Regions from separate parts of the Homo sapiens genome. Here region 1 is linked to region 2. The links come from fine-mapping of genetic effects on gene expression. A gene starts in region 2. The other region holds a variant in brackets. All regions are shown on one strand. Distances are from middle to middle. Region 1 overlaps EPN2 (epsin 2). Region 2 holds the start of RNF112 (ring finger protein 112).

What was found. PIP is the estimated chance that this variant, and not a neighbour inherited with it, causes the effect. A credible set is the group of variants that fine-mapping cannot tell apart.
Region 1: its variant is the best candidate, but not a certain one, in a credible set for the expression of RNF112 in whole blood (GTEx, PIP 0.61).

What each region holds. Positions count from the first base shown.
Region 1 is chr17:19,307,675-19,312,053 of GRCh38, reverse strand. EPN2 (epsin 2) reads right to left here. Exons shown (of 11, transcript NM_014964.5): 5 at 2,057-2,169; 6 at 1-2. Among named protein-coding and RNA genes, the nearest start is that of EPN2-AS1, 3.6 kb to the right of the region's middle. RefSeq lists enhancers at 1,300-2,215, 2,216-3,132. The variant G/C (reference allele first, on the strand shown) is at 2,032.
Region 2 is chr17:19,409,399-19,413,777 of GRCh38, reverse strand. RNF112 (ring finger protein 112) reads right to left here and starts at 2,546. Exons shown (of 14, transcript NM_007148.5): 1 at 2,316-2,546; 2 at 2,108-2,148; 3 at 995-1,280; 4 at 634-840; 5 at 367-498; 6 at 97-201. The coding sequence starts at 2,369.

The DNA of each region.
Region 1 (4,379 bases), 100 kb after region 2:
TCCTGTAGAGGGACAATGCAAACTGGTAATTGTAATAACATCACTGTACAGAACAAAGCCACACTGGCCAGAAACAGGAAATGCACATTGTATGATGCAGTATTTCAAAGGAAGATTTCAAAACTACTTGTAAAACACAATTACTTTCAAATCCCAAATGTGTGTGTACCCAGAAGGCCCCTCCCTCATGGCGACTCCTGTGACTTGGACCCCTGTGGGGTCACACCAGGGAGACTATGGCTCAGGTACCACCAAACTGGGGAAAGGGAATGCTTAATCTAAAATATTTTTTTCTCAAAATGAAACTGGCTTTATAAATTCTACTTATAGAAGCAATGTGTGTCCTTATAAAACACAAATCTGACAACCCAAAAAGGAATTAGAAAGAAGATAAAAATCACGTATCATTCCACCTCCACTGTGTATGCTTCCGGAAAATGGCTGCATATTTCTATGATTCCTAACAGAAATGATTCACTATCTTTATTTAAGGCAAAGTCACCATATGCAAAAGACAGGGTTGTCCTAAGCTTTTATATAATATAATAATTAAATATAAATAATATATTCCTTGTATTTTTTCTTTTCTTGTTTTTAAGAGATAGGGTCTCATGGTATTACCCAGGCTGCTACACAGTAGCTATTCACAGGGACAATGCCACTACTGATCAGCACGGGAGTTTGAACTTGCTCCCTTATATTTTATTATAAATATTAACTAAAATGGGCTCAAACCGTCCGTCTGTCCCTATGTTTCTCAGTGGATGCTACCACGCACCTTCTTCCTGGGCTGCTGGCCATGAAGCCACATGCATCCACCTGGGCAGTTACTGGTGGCCTGTTTCCCACTGCAGGGACAGAGAGGCCACAACTGAGATTGCCCACTGTCACTGAGCTTTAGAATGTTGCCAGTTATAGACACACAAACAATGCCGGGATGAACTTGTCAGTACTCAAATCTAACTATCCCCAGTATTCCTCTCTGAACACCAACTTCTAATAGAGGAGAGGAATCCCTGTGCTGCCCCTGGTCCCATCTACCTTTTTTAACCAAAGGTCATTGGAGACAGCCCTGATAACTGCAACCAAAGGCTTGACAATTTGTAAGGCCACTCTAATTGCTCCTTTCCCTTCTCGCTGTTGTAAAGTAATGCATGCTTACTAAAGAAAAATGGGGGCCAGGCACGGTGGCCCAAGACTGTACTCTCAGCACTTTGGGAGGCCGAGGTGGGCAGATCACTTGAGGTCAGAAGTTTGAGACCAGCCCGACCAACATGGTGAAACCCTGTCTCTACTAAAAATACAAAAATTAGCCGGGCATGGTGGCACGCGCCTGAAATCCCAGCTACTCGGGACGCTGAGGCACGAGAATCACTTGAACCCAGGACGCGGAGGTCTCAGGGAGCCAAGATTGCACCACTGCACTCCAGCCTGGGTGACAGAGTGAGACTCTGATTCAAAAAAAAAAAAAAAAAAAAAAAAGAAAGAAGGAGAAAGAGAGAAAGAAAAGAAAAGAGAAAAGAAAAGAAAAATGGGAACTGAAAAAAACTAAAACTATACATACTTCCATCATCAAAACACAAGCACTCTCATTTCGGGAGCATTTTTTCCCAGCCTTTGTTTTTTGCAAATCTCTTGCTACAGGTCAAAGTGCTTGGCGGGGGCTGGGCTGGCTCCTGCCCCTCAGGCCTGCATCCCTGCGCCCACCCTGCATGCCACCCTTCAAAGAGCCTGTGCAGGCTCAGCTCACTCAGGGAAAGCCCAGACACGTGTCTGCACAAGTGTTTCTGGGAAGCATTTTTAACTGGTTTCTTTCCTTGGCAATGACTTCCTAGAAAATCTTTCCTAAATGTAACTTTGCATGGGATCCCTCCCTGACTGGGAGGGACACTGGGTGACAAGAATACACACTTACGGCAGCATGAAATGCCATCTCAGCAAGCATATCTGAAATGTTTTGAAGACAGGGCTGTGTCTGCCATCTTCTTCCCAGTGAGCCACACTCCACCCTGAGCATGGGCAGTCAATGCA[G/C]TGCAGACCTGCCTGGGGCACTGACCTGCTCAGCCACTTCTCTGCTCATGGCAAGTGCCAGCTGCAGCTGAAGCTCCTCTTCTCCACTAGTCTGGGGCCGGGCTTGCTCCAGCTCGGAGGACACTCGCGGGGAGGTGGCTGTTGGGGAAGACCAAGTCATCATATGCAAAAGACAAGGCTGATACAGCTCCTGCACAGCAGTTTCCTGGGCAGACCACATTCCATTCCCATCTCAAACCCGCAAGGTCCAGCAGTAGCCCAACAATGCAGGCAGAGGAAAGGAAAGGCTTACAAATATTTGAATGTTAAAATCAAGTGACAGTCAAACGTAGCTTTCCCAACTACAGAAGTCCCCTGGTACCAACCAAGAGAAGATGCCTTTGGGTATGCAAGCCCCAGCCATCAGGCCTCACAAGGATCAGAACCTCAGTCTTCACGGCAGATCTGCAGTGCTCCAAAAAAGGAACTAACTCAAAGACCCAAAGTATAGCTCTTGAACAGATGAACCAAAGAGCATCCTTCAAACAGGTGGAGGGCATCTGGAGACCAAAGACTCCACTCCAGGCACACCAACATTCAAGAGCTGACTTTTGAGGCCAGGCGCGGTGGCTCACGCCTATAATCCTCACACTTTGGGAGGCCGAGGCGGGCGGATCACAAGGTCAAGAGATCGAGACCATCCTGGCCAACATGGTGAAACGCCATCTCTACTAAAAATACAAAAATTAGCTGGGCATGGTGGCGTGTGCCTATAATCCCAGCTAGCAGGAGAATCACTTAGAGACCCGGGATATGGAGGTTGCAGTGAGCCAAGATCTCGCCACTGCACTCCAGCCTAGTGACAGAGCGAGACTCCGTCTCAAAAAAAAAAAAAAAAAAAGAGTTGACCTTTGTCTCTCGTAGTGTTACTACGAGATCATGGAAAATGAAGCCCGCCCATTTCTGCAGTGACCCCAAACATTTTCGTTCTGTAAGCAGCTTTGTACACTGATTAGAAAGAAATGCAGATAAAAATGCAGACACTTTTGCTGTGCACTTAGCTAGTTTAAATACTTCTAAGCAGCTCCTGGAAAGACAGTTTTTATTGAATGAATGAGATGTGAACTCCTAGCTGATGTAACAAACCCCACGGGAGTCTTAACATTCACAACATAAACCATGGTGCTGGGTGCTGGGGCTTACACAGCCATCAGGATGTTTCACGATCAGGGAATCTAAATGCTTTTAGAAATTATTGTAGTTTTAGAAGTATGTGCCCACCTCTGCCCCCGTTTCAGGAAGGGTCCATAGCTTCTCTAAAACTCTCAGAACAAGACCTGCCCTCTGAGAGATTTGGAGCTACTGCTTTAGATGGTTCCTTGCCCTGTCCTCCTCCCGGGTCTCCGTGCAGGCTGTTCCCTCAGCGCACCCACCTCCTCTTTTGTAGTCAGAGCTCGGCTTCCCGGACCTGGTCCTTCCCCTCCATCCTGATGCTGTGTCAGACTCTGCACCTCTGCACCTCTCCCTTGTAGCACTCACCCCTGGCTGACAAACACCTGTTGGGTGGAGGCTTACATGCATGCACAGACAGGTGCATGCACAGGTCGACAGATGGACAACTACAGAATTCAATTTCATGGTTAACGGGTCATTTTAAAATGTTCTAATTGTGCCGGGCATGGCGGCTTATGCCTGTAATCCTAGCACTTTGGGAGGCTGAGACGGGCGGATCACCTGAGGCCAGGAGTTCTAGACAAGCCTGGCCAAAATGGTAAAACCCGGTCTCTACTAAAAACACAAAAATTAGCTGGGTGTGGTGGCGGGCGCCAGTAATCCCAACTACTTGGGAGGCTGAGGCAGGAGAATTGCTTGAACACAGAAGGCAGAGGTTGCAGTGAGCCAAGATCAAGCTACTGCACTCCAGCCTGGGCAAAAGAGCAAGACTGCATCTCAAAAAATAAATAAATGTTCTAATTGTGTATTAGTTTACTTCCTTCTTTCATTACATCTATTTTAGGAAACCTAACTAGCAGGATTCATTCACCTAGGTGTTGCTTCTGCCTTACTTTCCAATCTAAATTTGCTTCTTAGGGTTTTCCTCTTTGAGAGAAACTAAAAGGTTAGGAATAATTCCTGACAAAGGAGGCTTTCAGATAGCTGGGCCATGGCTATGGTGAATAAAACAGGGGAAGAGGCCTAAATGCAATTCAGGCCACAGACGGGATCCACAGAAGAACCAGGGGAGGTAGAAAGAGGCTGCTTCTGGGCAGAGGGCTGAGGTGGGGCCGGGCAGGAGACTGGGAACTTCTCTACCATGTGAGGTTGCCAAGCAGAGGCATCACCCTGTCATGAAATTCTTAAAAACACAC
Region 2 (4,379 bases):
CAGACACCAAAGCCTGTGAGATGCTCTGGCCTTGAGGAAGCTGAGCTGGAGAAGGGTGTGTGGGGTGGGGATGCCAACATCAGCGCCCCCCATCACCTGGTAGGAGCTCAGCATCGTGGTGAGAGCACAGAGCTTGATCCTTGTTTCCCTGCTCAGCTCAGGGCTCATGGCATCCCCTGTGTCCACCAGGAACACCGCCACCTATGCAGGGGGTAGGGAAAGACCCAAGGGGCCAGGCCTGCCTTGTTCTCCCACATTCTTCCCAACCCTGCCCCGTCCCATCCCCATCTTCTATCCTCACCCCAGAGACGCCCTTCTTGATTCCCCTTCCCATCCCTGACCTCCTTCTGCCACTTCCCCCCTCACCTTCTTCCCTTCTTTCCCCAGCAAGAAGGGGTGGCTCCACATCCATATGCCCCTGGCGAGGCCATTGGCGCCCCACCTGCAGCCCTGCAGGGATGCCTCTCCTCCTCTTGGCCGGCCGCCCTCACCAGACTCCTGCAGGGGAGAGAAGGGAGAGCATCAGTTGGTCGGTTCCTTGTCCCCACAGACCGGAATACCAGACCCAGCTTCCCCCAGGCAGGAACCCCCATCCTTGCTCCCCGCCTCCCTCCTGCCCCGCCCCGCCCTCACCAGGCCCGGCAAGCCCTGAAGCAAATGGTTGAGGAGGAAGGACTTCCCTGAGTGCTGCTCCCCCAGGACAGCGAGGAGGCAGACTGGGGTGTCCCTGGCCAGAGGGTGCTTCAGGCAGCGGTTGATGGCCCCCATCCTAAGGATGAGGCCCCCAGAGGCATTGATGCGAACCAGCAGCAGCGGCTCCGCCCTCACAGGACACGTCTCCTGGGCCAGGAGAAGAGAGGGGCCCCTGAGCATCCAGGACCAGCTCCTGACCCTGGAATGTGTTCAGCCTGGAGCTCTGTGTCCTGATGTTCTAGAATAGGGCCAAAGCCACCCCCTCCTCTTGGGTCTGACTGATTAGGCCCAGTCCCCAGACCTGCAGTGCAGGGGGCAGCGGCCGCTGCGGCAGGAGCTTCATCTTCTCGCCCAGGCTCCGGAGGCCCCTCTTCTGCTTGCATATCTTCCGGCACTCAGGACAGCAGGGCGGCTCACAGCCCGGGAGACGGTGTGTGCTGAAGCACCGTATGCAGAAGTCGTGGCCACAGTCCAGCGAGATGGGGTCGCGCAACCTCTCCAGGCAGATGGAGCAGGTAGGGAGCTCCCGGGGCGCCATGGGCTGGGGCCCCAGGCCTAGCTCCAACTTGGGGAAAGGTGTATGGGACCTGTGGGGCAAAACAGGCCATTGAAAAGCAGGATGTCTATTGGGGGCAGGGGGTACCGGCCAGGGTTGTGGTGGAAGACTGATGGCTTGGGAGTGGAGGTCCCTTTGTGCCAACCCAATTTCCATCAGTGCCTCCATGGACAGGCGGAGCTGCTCCCAGAGAGGCCAAGCTCTGCCCGTTCCTCACTGACATGTGTCCTAGGACCTGGGGGCCTCAGAGTGGGGGCAGCAGAGCAATGGTGAGAGAGTCTGAGAGGGAGAAAATCTGAGTGGAATGGACTCCACCACATCCCAGCCATGCAAATGCAAGCAAGTTCCTTCCCCTCTCTGGGCCTCAATTTCCTAACTGTCCCAATGGAGAGGATAGCAATACCCCTCATGGGGCCGTTGGGGTGGCCATCCGAGAGGAGGCGTGTGCAGCTGTCTGCACAGTGCCTGGTGCAAATGCTTGGGAAGAGCCTCTCCCGGCGTTCTACAGCGGGGCTCCCTCCATGAGGTGCTGACTTCAGCCAGGCCCCCAGGGATGATACCCTCCACAACCCCATGCTACAGGGACAGTGAGGAGAAGCCATCAGCCTGTGCTGCAGTTGGGCAGATGGCTCTGGATCTTAGAAGATTCCTTCCGCTCTCTGCTCTGAGCTGGCATCTGCCTCCCTGCAGCACCCACCTGCTTCTTCCTGTCCCTCCCTCCACAGCCTGGCGGATCCAGCCTCAGGCGGACAGCCCTCCCGGCTGGGCTGCCGGGCTCTGTGTTCCAGGACCGGCCATTTCAACTGACCTGCCTGGCCTCACTGCACCCATCCCAGCCTGGAAGGCCCTGCTACTTACCAACTGTTGCCGCTGTTTCCCATGAAGCTCTGTTTTCTCTCCTTGGAGAAAAAAAAAAAAAAAAAAGATTTAGAACATAATCCAGACTTCTATCTTCACCCTGGATTTCCAGGGACCCCTCATCCTCCCCACCCCCGGCCCATCCCCCAGCCCAAGGAGGGCCCTTCCCACCCCACTCTCCTTCCCGATCTTAGGACTGAAGACTTGCCCGTTTGCCAAGCCGATGACAAAAGGAAGTGACTGACAAGGCGGGCCTTGGCATGGGAGGCTGGGATGGGGAGAGGGTCCGGATGCAGAGGGGGAGGCCCCGAGACCTTCAACCAGAGGTAAGGATGCCTTTTCTCCCGGAAAGGCTAGCAGGCTGCGGTAGGTAGAAGGTGAGGTCGGGGGATGGTATCCCCGAGGAGCTGACTCCCGGTCAGAGCTGGAAAAGAAATGTGACAGTCAGGAAAGAGGAGGCTGCTGCTGGACTCACCCCAGGGGGAGGAGACACGGCTGCGGGTAGCAGGGCTCCGAGGAGGGAGGGATGGAGCCCGGCTCAGAATCCCTGGCAGAGGCTGGGATGCAGGCAAGCCGAGGTGGTGAGTCGCCATGGAGACAGAAGGGAAAGATAAGGACAGGGAGGGGGAGGGGGACAGAGAGGGAGAAGGCGTGCGGTGCACCCGCAAACATGGAGGCGCCTCCGGCAGAACCATGGGCCAGCACTGCCTCTACTGGGCCAGCTGAGGTCTCCCCAGGGCCACAGGACAGGGTGGGCAAAGAGAAGAGGTGTGAGAAACAGGAGAGGGTAAGACCAGAGCTGACCCAGAGACAAGGAGTTATTCATCCATTCATCCAATGAACAGTTACTGAGTACCTACTATGTACAGAGCCCCCAAATGCAGACCCTACTTCACATGGCCCTGCACATCCTCCTGCTCTCTCTCAGGTTTATGTCATCGACGCCCAACCCAGCTGCAGCCTTCTTCAGCACTCATGGGCCCTCCGTGTCCTCTGGTGTATTTCCCTCCCAATAGCTTTCACTCTGCCTCAAACTTGAGCAGGATGAAATCTATCAAAACTATGAGCCACCTCTGGACCTTCTAATGGCCTCTTGACTGGGCTCCTTGCCTCCCTTCCACTCCCCAGTGCACAGCCAGCATAGGCTCCCCAAGCACAGATGACCTCACACTGCGCAAACACCTTTTGTGTCTCCCTACTACCATCAGATCAAAATCCAAACTCTCCGGCCTGCGGACTGGGCTGAACCTTCCTTCCACCCTTCTCTCGCCCCACTCTTCCCTGCCTCTGCACCCTGGCTTGGCTGCTCTGCTCCTTCTCATCCCTCCTGGGACACCCTCTTAGGCCCAGTGCAGGTGCTGTGGCCTCCCTAGAGCCTCCTTTCCTCACCCCTCCCAACTGGGTGCGGTCTTGTTCTTGGACAGTTGAGGGCTGGGATATGTGATAGGCTTGGCGCAGCCCAGGCTTCAGAGCCAGGCAGATCTGGGCTTGATTCTCGGCTCAGGGGCTCTGGGACTCCACTGCACCTCTCTGTGCTCTGAGGAGCCACCATTACCTATGTAAAGCCACTAGTCCAGGCACGGGAGTCATTCGTACATCCTATGAGCTAGGATGCAGAAGGGTTGGGGTGAGGTGGGATTCAGAACCTAGAAAAGTTCAGCAGAGACCACCTTCAGCAGGTGGAGACACCCCTGAAGCTGGGGCTGGATCTTGTTCATTTTGGTGTCTGGAGGGCCTGAGATTGTGGGGCTGAATCAATCAGATTCAGAGAAGCAGTGCCATAGACTCTGCCTCCTCCTGCCCCAGGTGGGACAAGCCCCTGTGTGTTGGCAGCAAAGCCTCACACTCAGGGGATGAGGAAGCAAGCCTGAGCCGTGCCACAGCTCTGCCTTCAGGGCAGAAGGGAGGGTTTTCTCAACCCCTGTAGCCTTTCATCCTTGCAGGAGAGAAAGCGTGGGCGCTGGACTCAGATTCAAGCTCTAAACCTGCCTCCATCCCAGCATGAAATGCTGGTGAGTCACTGCCCTCTCTGAGCTTCCATTTGCTCATCACCAGGCAAAGATGTGAGGAAGCAGATGGGACAATCAGTCTTCACTTAATGATACTTACTGAGCACCAGGTACTGTGTCTCACACTGCAGTACAGCTGGAAACAAGAGAGACAAAGCTCCATCCTCCCCAAGATCCCAACTGGACAATTAAAAGGCATTGCTATGATCTGGGTGAGAACCTGGATGCGGGGAGGGTGAGGAGGGGTGTCAGGCTGTCCTGAT